Regions from separate parts of the Homo sapiens genome. Here region 1 is linked to region 2. Evidence: fine-mapped expression QTL. Tissue or cell type: lymphoblastoid cells. Region 2 holds a variant in brackets; the other region holds the start of a gene. All regions are shown on one strand. Distances are between the middles of the regions.

Region 1 (5,152 bases), 66 kb before region 2:
AAGGAAGAGCAAAGGGGCTTCTTACACAGTGGCAGGCAAAAGAGCTTGTGTAGGGGAACTCCCATTTATAAAGCCATCAGATCTCATGAGACTTATTCACTACCATAAGAACAGTACGGGTGAAACCGCGCCCATGATTCAATTATCCCCACCTGGCCCTGCCCTTGACAGGTGGGAATTATTACAATAAAGTGAGAGGTGGGTGGGGACACAGCCAAACTATATCAACAGGTCATGTACGTAAGCTGCTTAATATTTATTGAGCAGCTACACTGTGGACTGAATCAAATAGAATATGAGGATACATATGTGAAAAAATATTATTTTAATAGCTGGCTCCAGAGTTCCTCTTGGGAAGTTACTTTGTGTAGGAAAAAACTTTGGTAAACAGTTTAGGAATGGCAGGTAGCTATGAAGGCACAGATTAGGAGATGGAAATAAAAGTATTGTATAAAGAGAGGAGAGGAGGGGAGAGATGGGACCAGAAAGATGGTACAATAGTGGGAGGTTACAGGTTATGATGAAAAAATGGGGGTAGGTGGTAGGTGGATAAAAATATCATGGGAGGAACTGAAGGACTTTTAAGAGCAGGGATTTCTAATTTTAGGTTTTTTGCATCCTTAATTTAAAACCACTTATCTGCTCCAAACCTTCTAAAGAGTTGGCTATAGAAACAACCAAAGAAAAGGGGCTGATTTCGAAATTATGTGTCAGCAGGAGTAGAGAGAGGAGAGTTGTAAGAGGTGATATGTGGAGAGGTCTAAGTGTTCAGGAAAAGCAAGAACTGAGAGCCAGAAGTGACGGTGCAATCCTTGAGAGGACATTGGCCGTGGGGAACACCACAAGGTGGATAAGGGACTCAGTCAAGTTCAAGAAAATCTCTGTGGTAGGATGACTCAGCTGGATTACAGGAGCCATTTTTGTTATTTTCAACCATAATTTTTCAGGAGATATTCATTACTAGAAAATGACAAGGTCACGAATTCACTCCCCTTCCTCTTTTTTTCTATTAAATTTCTGGGCCTCAGTTTTCCCATCTATAAAATCTAGAGATTGGGCCTAGAATATCTCTGTAGTTTCCATTAGAGTCTATAGCTCTAATAATAATAACAACACATTTTTATGTTCTCTTTTGAGGTAAATTTACATGCAGTGAAATGTACAAATCTTAAATGTCCCATTCCAAGAGTTTTGACAAGTGCATATACTTCTGTAACCGAAACTCTTAGCTATAGAATTTTTTCATCACTACAAAAAATTCTCTCAAACTCCTCCCCGACAGCCAACCACTATTCTGACTTTTATCACTATTGATTAAATAATTAATATTTAATAGCTATTGTTAAATGCTAAGCTTTGTTTTATAGAGCTTCATCAGTATTAATGCGTGTATTTCTTACAAGAGTTGCAAGATGGATATCTCCATTTTTGCAGATCAAAACGTTAAGAGGTGAGAAAGGCGCCTCTGGTCATCAGCTACCAAGCACAGGGGCAGGACGTGAACTAAGAATTCGTTTTAGAAGCCCACGCTCTTAACCTGTTTATCCTAGAGTCCACAAACGATTGCCAAGAAACAGCATAAATCCAAATTCAGTCGAAAGCAATGCCATTTGCAAATTCTAAAACCTCCTGAATAATCCTAAAGGCCATATGCATTCCATCTTATCGAAGGATTCCCTTCTATCCCCCTCCCCAGAGAATGGAGAAAGGGGGTGCGAAAGACTTCAATTCGGTTTGACTGGAGAAAAACACAGAGGTGGCGTAGGATCCACACATCCCTTGGGGGCAGACCCAGCGGCGGACGCCTGGACAGGCGGCGGGAAAGGCGCTGCGACGCCCCGGGTGCCCCCTCCTTCGACGCCACTGGCATCACCTCCGAAAGCAGCAGGCACGAAGGTGCCCTGCCACGGGGGCTGGACGCAGTGGAGGCAGGCTCATCAAGCACGACCAGAGCTCAGTCGGCCACACGTCCTCCTCAATGTCACTGTCTCCCTGCTCTCCCACCCCGCGCCGCTGCACCTCCCTCCCCCCGGCAACCTGGGCGGGAGTCCCAAGCTCCGCCCCAGAGCGGACTCACAGCCCCCGCGCTCCCTCCCGCGCTGCGCCCACCGCGCGGCCGCGGCTGCCATGGCAACACTACGCCGCCGCCGCCTTTTCACGCACGTCGCGAGCTAACGGACTCGGCGGCGGCGGCGGCGGCGGCCTGCGCCCCACCCGCACCCCATCTGGACCGCATCGCTGAATGTGCCCGGACCTGCGCCTTCTGGGTAATGAATCCGAGAGAAAGGGGCGAGGGCGAGACAGCAGGTGGTGGAGGGCTCTAGCCAACAGCCCCTCTCGGCCTCCCACTGCCGGAGACGCCAGGGCAGTGGGCTGCGGGGTTCCTCGGGCGCTGGCTCCCGTGCGGGGACGGGGAGGGGCGCGGGAGCGCCAGGCTCGCGGTGCATCATGGGAATTGTAGTTCAGCGACTCCTCGGGCTCGCGGTCTTGGTGGGGTAGCTCGGACTGGCGAACTACAAAGCCCGGCGGCCCCGACCGCCGGGAAAGACCGATAAACTTTGAGCGGACCGGGACAGAAAAAAAAATCTCTCTTTGTCTTGAGGGGGCTGTTGAGTGGTCGCGGACCTGGGCTCTGTGCGTTGGGAAAGGGAAGTGGAGGTGAGCCTCGGGCTTCCCGCCCTGTAGCTGGGCCCGCCCCAGTTGCAGCGCTCAGCCCCACCCCGGCTGGGCCACCGCCCTGCACAGTCTCAGGGATGAGCAGCCGCCCAAGCTGCAGGGCCTCGGGTCTTCGGCGCCTCTGACCCTCGCAGGTTGCTGCCTTTCGGTGCAGAACCGTATGTATGTCACACATTGGATGTGAGACCTGAGAAACCGTGTTTTAACAGGTTTTTCTCCTTTCCTGGATACGTTTATTTCTGGGTTAGTCATGTTTGTTTTAAAGTAGCTCAGAGGTGTTTGCATATTAAACCCATCAATTGGTAATTACTCAAAGGGCAGTAATGTTTAAAGGTTAAGTGTGGAAATAGATAAAAAGATGTCATTGCGATTATATGGTGGTATCTGGCATTTTTAACTTTTTGCATTTTTGAATTTTATTTCTTGAGGTTCAAGGTTGTGAAATGAGTGCTCCACCCCACCCCCCCCTTGCCAGCCTGAACACTGCCTACACATATTTTGATTAGTTCAGCTTTAAATTACTAGTAACTTTTAAAAACAGACTTTTTTAGCAGTAGGCAGCAATAATTCTTTGATTATTCCAGTGTTATTCAGAATTTCTCAGCATGTTTTCGGAAGGAAAAATACCATGTTTTAATTATTTAGTTAATTCTTTATATATTTTTTATGTTCAGGAGTACACTTGAGTCCTTAGAGTTGACTCAAAGACTTGCTGGTAAAGGAAGCTGACACAGATTTACGAAACCTTCCTTGACGACCCTTTAAAATTTTTTAATAGGTAGATAACCATCCTAGAAATTTGCTGCTTTATGGAGTAAGTTGGAGAATTGTTGATATTATTGTGAGTTTGTGTGTGTGTGTGTTTAAAAACAAAAAGACCACAAATCCTATAAAACTTTCTCTTAATTAAAATGAAGTTGACCTGTGTAAATTTTACTTGAGGTTGCAATTTTGTACAAGGAGGAGATGGAAAGTAGGTTTAGTAAGACAGGTAGAAAACAAAATTGAGGCCTTATGTGATACAACATAAGGTTTGAAGTATTTTATTTATTCATTCAAAATGTGTTAGGAACCTATGTGCCAGGCATTATGCCAGGTGGTGAGAATAAAGAGATGAAAAAAGATAGTCTGTATCCTGCATGGGCAGTCTTGTCATCACAGTAGTGTGGTAGAGATAAGTGCAAGTTGCTCTAGGAGCCCAGAGGAAATAATCACATAACAGTAACATTTATTGAATATGTCAGGTGCTGTGAGGAGTATTTTGCATGCAACTCCTTACTTAATCCTCAAAACAGTTGGTGAAGTAGTTACTGATTTTTAGAGATGAGGAAACAGGCTTTAGAGGCCTTGCTCAAAATCATAGCTGGTAACGTGTGAACCTGGGATTTCAGCCCAGGTGGGTCTGGTCCTGATCTCAAGCACTGACCATTCTCTGTCATTTAGTAGAAAGATCCTGACTCTGTCTAAGGAAGTCAGGGGAGGCCTTCAGTGTGATTTGACTTTTAACTTGTGTTAAAATAGTTGAATAAGCTTTCACTGGAGTGATGATGAGGAAAGTCATTCTAGGACAAATGGATGGCACAAAATAAGCAAAGGATAGATTGAAGAATCAGTATTTTGTATTTGGGAAACGCTAGGTAGTTCTGAATGACTGGATCCCAGAATACTTGCAATTAGTGGGTGAGGCCAGATCTTAAAGTACTTGGCACCATATTCAGAGTTTAGAATTTTTCTTGATATAGGGCAGTCATTGAAGAATTTTAGCTAGAGTGGTGGTGGCGTCAGATTTGTATTTTAGAAAGATAACTCCAGCCCCAGTGTAGAGAATGGACCTGGGAGGGGAAACATTACAGGTAGTAGAAAAGCCAGTTGTATAATAGAAAAAAACAAAGTCCAGTAGAGAAGTGAAGAGAGTCTGAATTAAGCATTTGGAGTTACAGAAAGACATGGATTCAAGGAATATTTAAGAGATAAAATTGATATGACTTGATAAGAGTTTGGATGTTGGGAGTTAGATTTGGAACTCTTAGCTGATTGATTCCTCAGTTTCTGGCTAGCATGACTGAGGTAATAGTGAATCCGTTGATTGAGATGAGGAGGAGCTGGTTTTTATTGGGGTGAAATATAAAGATATTAGTTGAGTTTTGAGCATTTGTTAGAGGTTCCTATGGGATATTCAGGTGGAGGTGCATTTTAGTCTGGAGTTCAGAGAGAGCAGGCTGGAGTTAGAAGTTTGCATATAGATAAGTAATTAAAGCTACAAGGGAGAATGGACCAGCTCACATTGGAGTAATGAGTAGAAAAGAAAAAGGAAGAGGTTTGGATATGGAACTCTCATTTAAGAAATGTGTGTAGGCCGGGCGCAGTGGCTCGCGCCTGTAATCCCAGCACTTTGGAAGGCTGAGGCGGGCAGATCAGGAGATCAAGAGATCGAGACCATCCTGGCCAAGATGGTGAAACCTCGTTTCTCCTAAAA
Region 2 (5,152 bases):
GGGGACTAGGGGAAGGATAACATGAGGAGAAATACCTAATGTAGATGATGGGTTGATGGGTGCAGCAAATGACCATGGCACGTGTATACCTATGGAACAAACCTGCACGTTCTGCACATGTATCCTAGAACTTAAAGTATAATTTAAAAAAAAGAAAAATAATGAGATTTCCAAGAAATTTTGCACTTTCCTTGGGCCATTGAAATCAGGCAACAGATGAATAAATTAGGCAAGTGAGAGGCAGTGGCTTTACAGGAAAAAGATCAGCTATAATTAAGCTTAGACATCCGTGTGACTATGACCCAGTGATTTTTATTACTAATTGGCCAGTAATTTCCGATGCGTGGTAGCTTACTACCTAATGAGTTGATTCGTCTGTTGGACAGAATCTATTGTTAGAAAATTCTTTCTTTTGCTGATCTGAAATCTATCTCTTTTGTTACTGGCCCTTGCTTTTTTTTTTTTTTTTTTTTTTTTTGGCTTAATACCTAGTAGGCCTGTTGGTTGTATTGCCCCATTAGAATTTACTTCTTCAGCTTAAATGTCTCTAGTTTCCTTGGTCTTCCTCCATATGACATGGGTTTTGAACCCTTTATCATCTTGATTATTCTTCCCTGGGTGTAATTTATCAGTATTTCTCTTAAAATGCAAGACCCAGAGCTAGTAACTGATCATGTTTTACTTAATCTGCCAGTGTGAGAGGTTGCATAGTAAAATGTAAGAAACATTTGCATTTTAGGGCAAACTATATCATTAATTGGCTCTGTAATATTTGGTTAGTCACTTTGAGCCTAATTTTCCTCAAATAGAAGATTATCCAACACTAATGAAAGATGAGTAACAAAGCTTTCTTGATATGGGAAATTTTGATGTTAGTAAAAAGAAGCTAAAATATTTTGCTTTCATGAGAAAAAAAGTATATCAACCTTCATGCTAAAAATCAAATTCTTGCTAATGTTGACCTTAGTCAACTCATATGAAAATCTAAGGAAAGAATTCTAAGATCATTTCAGTGACATTGCAGTTAGTAGTATTTATGTACACTTAGTAATATCTTGGAGAGGTTAGCTTTATTTCCTTTAACTAATAGTTTCCTTTAGGTATTGCATTTAATCTAGCTGTTTATATTTGATGTCTGTATTCTAATTTAAGTATTTTTTATGAAGAATAACTGTCACCCATTTTACTGATTTCCTGGCATAACCAAATTAATTTTAGTTTTCCTATGTCTGTTTTTTATAACCTCACCATTTTGATTTGAAAACGTTTCCAGAATCTTTTTTGTAGTCCTCGATCGGTATTCAAGTCTCATGTGTACCACTGAGAAACTTTGGGTTCTCGGGCAGGTCATTTAACTGGCCTATACACACACTTCTTCTTCAGTGTAGTGAGAGGCTTTTAGTTCTTTGATTCTCCTCCTCTACCCCGTCCTCTATAGGAGCCAGAAGAAATCCAAACTCACCTCTGCCCATATCTTCAACCTCTTTCTTCTGCGCAATACATTTTATTATACTGGCTACTCAGGTTTTTTCACAGCACTTCACAGTTTATGTGTGTTTTTGCTTTATTTACTTGTTACTCGTTTCCCCCACTAGACTAGATGCTTGATGAGGGCAGATAATGTATTTTCATTCACTGCTCTAAAACCTAATGCACAATAGCATGTATTGCACGTAGAAGATGCCCAAATATTTACTGTTTTTAAAATCCTATGATACTCCTATTACTTTCAGATAGGCATGCAGCTTTTTCTTTCTCCTGAGGTAGTGTTTATTAAGTTCTTTCCAGCCACTTGGACATTCATATTAAAATGAAATTTTAATTTTAACTTGATAAGTGTAAATTACAGTGCCATATGAAGGCTCAAGCTCCAGATATGTCAGTTTCTGTTGTATTCTTTCGTTGATACGTTTCTAGAATAGTTTTTAAATGATTACAGAATGTTCCTAGTGATTTGTTTGAATATGACTTGGTAGCCTTGGCCTATCTGTACTATAAAATTTGACTCTAGCCTAAGCTTAAGTTTGTTGATGTTATGTTTCTTGTGTAGGTGCCAAAAATTTACTCCTTTTAATATTGTCAGTATTGATATCTGTCATCTGGAATGCAAGAATCTTCGGGAAAATTTACTAATAAATTTAATGCTACCGCCATACTGCCCAGAAATAATTTATTTTTTTGGGTGAAGTACCAGAATACTGTTTGGTCACTTACCTAGTGGCTTGAAGGAACCAGAGCATCTGTCCAAGGGAGCCATTTAGTTTCCTCCAGCACTTATGATTGAGCCTTTTGACTATCTCAGAAGTGGGATTGGAGAAGTTTGTCTTGTTCTCTTGTCTCTTTTCCGGTTGAAGTTTAGGAGATTGACTCATTTTGACCATTTTCTTGTTT[T/C]GTTTTTACTCTAGGCAGTAACTGGGGCTAAAGCTCTGGGGAGGCACTTGGCTGTGCTTGCTGAAGTATTTCCATAGTTGGACTGTCTCTGGCAAATAAGTGAATTTCATTTAAAGCTCGTCAAAGCTGTGTGAATCTTGGCAGAACCCCATAGAAACCATAGCATAAAATTTCTTTTAAAACAACTATATTATTAAATGAAGAATTTGGGGTAAAGCATATTGCTTTAATGGTCTTAATACTATTTAAAAAGATCCTTCCACATTAATATTCAAAATGTTTTCTAGTAGTGGTGGAAATCCTCTGCGTCTACCAGTTCAAAGGTAGGCTTTCCCAGTCTTTTGGGATCTAGCAAGGATCAGTTTAGTCTTACCTGCATGCAACTGTTCCTGCAAGAATGTAGATTTGAAGTTTTTAATAAAGTTGACCAGTTCATGTATTTCTGATGAATTAAATAGAGGAGAATGGCATTTGAGTAATCAGAAAATACTACCTTAAAATAATAAAAATTATTTAGAAAGTGATGGCATTATAATGTTTTCAAAGCGTAATGATGTTAACTAAATTATCCATTACTGACTAGTACTTTTTTTTTATACCTATCCCCAGGGAAGGAAGAATATGCAAGATGGTGCAAGTGATGGTGAAATGCCAAAATTTGATGGTGCTGGTTATGATAAGGATCTGGTGGAAGCCCTTGAAAGAGACATTGTATCCAGGAATCCTAGCATTCATTGGTTAGAGTCTTTCAAATTATTGAATTAAAGTAGAGGAGAACACAAATTATAGGTTGTCTTGGTGTGTGAGTTTTCTCTTGTTATTCATTAATCTGATTATGACCACATCTATAATATGAAAGTATAGAATTGACGAGACAGTTCTGTCGAATGTAACCAAGGACATTTTACATGTTAATTTGAAGTTGATGTGTAACTGACAAGTTGTTAATTCAATGACATGTCCTCATTAATAACTAATGTTTTCACTGATCTTTTTATGCAGTAAGAATTAGAATAATGTTCTTACTATGAGAATAATTTCATAAGTAAAAAAAAATTAAAAGAATTAGTTTTGACCATAAATCAAAGATCCCTGAGTAAACATTATGAAAGTTTGCTGTTCTTTCAAAGGGATGACATAGCAGATCTGGAAGAAGCTAAGAAGTTGCTAAGGGAAGCTGTTGTTCTTCCAATGTGGATGCCTGACTTTTTCAAAGGGATTAGAAGGCCATGGAAGGTGAGAATTTATTAAATTGGTTTTGATATAAGAATGCTACTTGGCACTGGAATGAAAGGCAGCATTGCTGTAGTTTTTGATGTATTTAACCCATTTTGAAAAGGTTGGGAGAAGTTTATGTACACCCAAAACACCTGGATTTGAATTTGTAGTTGTGATGTGTTACATCTGCATAGCAGGAGAGATGGGCTTGGAGTGTTGAAACTATATAGTCTTTAGGTCACTTCACTCAGGGATGCTGAGCTAGAGATTAGTTTTAAGAATTTTCTGGATGTATGGTTCTATAAATAAAAAGTTAAGCAGATTAAGCAGAAATAATATATGGTCTTATAGAAGAAAGGTGTGATCAAACAGTTTTCAAAAGTTGGAATATTTCTCACTGATGGTTAATTATTTTGTTTTACTTGTCACTGACTTGAAAACAAATGTTTTTTCTAAAAAGAGGTCTTTAGCTGTGTTTTAAAAAACTACTTCTTGGCTGGGTACCGTGGCTTACACCTGTAATCCCAGCACTTTGGGAGGCTGAGGAGGGTGGATCACGAGGCCAGGAGATCGAGACCATCCTGCCCAACATGGTGAAACCTCATCTTTACGAAAAATACAAAAATTAGCTGGGCGTGGTGGTGCATGCCTGTAATCCCAGCTACTCGGGAGGCTGAGGCAGGAGAATTGCTTGAACCCGCGAGTTGGAGTTTGCAATGAGCCAAGATCGCGCAACTGCACTCCAGCCTGGCAACAGAGTGAGACTCCATCTCAAAAAAAAAAAAAAAAAAATCACTTCTGTATCATTACAAAATATCTGACTTTATCAATTTATTTTGTCCTTGCTGTGCTTTTGTAGTATTTATTGGCAAACTGGATTAAGAAAATAAAGATATATTTCTAAAGAATCTTTTTCCTGACCAAATAATTTTTTTCTGCAACAGTAGAATAAAATTCTTGAATAGAACTATTACGTTTTTTTAAAAGGTTATGTCTGAATTTTTTAGGGATTTGTGAGAATAGATTATTTACTGAAATGGGACAATAAATGTATTTTATTTATTTTTTGAGACTGAGTCTCACTCTGTTGCCCAGGCTGGTGTGCAGTGGCATGATCTTGGCTCACTGCAACCTCTGCCTCCTGGGTTCAAGCAATTCTTGTGCCTCAGCCTCCTGAGTAGCTGCAATTACAGATGCGTGCCACCATGCCCAGCTAATTTTTGTATTTTTGGTAGAGGCTGGGTTTTGCCATGTTGGCCAGGTTGGTCTTGAACTCCTGGCCTCAAGTGAACCTCCCACCTTGGTCTCCCGAAGTGCTGGGATTACAAGCATAAACCACTGTTTCAGGCCTGATAAATGTATTTTAAAGAATACATGAAAATAAGGAGACCTCAGAAATTTTTCAAGCTTCTAAAATTGGTCTCAAAATGTAAATTCCAGAATTTCAGAACTGGAATGAGTCTTTGAGATCATCTCAAATCCCCACTATTTGGCATACTAGAAAATTGAAGTCCAAATAGGTTGTGACAACCATAATAGACCT

The links. PIP is the estimated chance that this variant, and not a neighbour inherited with it, causes the effect.
Region 1: it holds the start of KATNAL1, and the variant in region 2 is fine-mapped to the expression of KATNAL1 in lymphoblastoid cells (GTEx, PIP 0.95).

The regions. Positions count from the first base shown.
Region 1 is chr13:30,304,446-30,309,597 of GRCh38, reverse strand. It overlaps KATNAL1 (katanin catalytic subunit A1 like 1), which reads left to right and starts at 2,047. Exons shown (of 11, transcript NM_032116.5): 1 at 2,047-2,267. RefSeq lists silencers at 2,043-2,272, 2,303-2,412.
Region 2 is chr13:30,238,935-30,244,086 of GRCh38, reverse strand. KATNAL1 (katanin catalytic subunit A1 like 1) reads left to right here. Exons shown (of 11, transcript NM_032116.5): 5 at 3,001-3,128; 6 at 3,522-3,627. LOC102723381 (a long non-coding RNA gene) reads right to left here. Exons shown (of 4, transcript XR_007063741.1): 3 at 2,765-2,833; 4 at 2,170-2,479. Among named protein-coding and RNA genes, the nearest start is that of KATNAL1, 66 kb to the left of the region's middle. The variant T/C (reference allele first, on the strand shown) is at 2,392.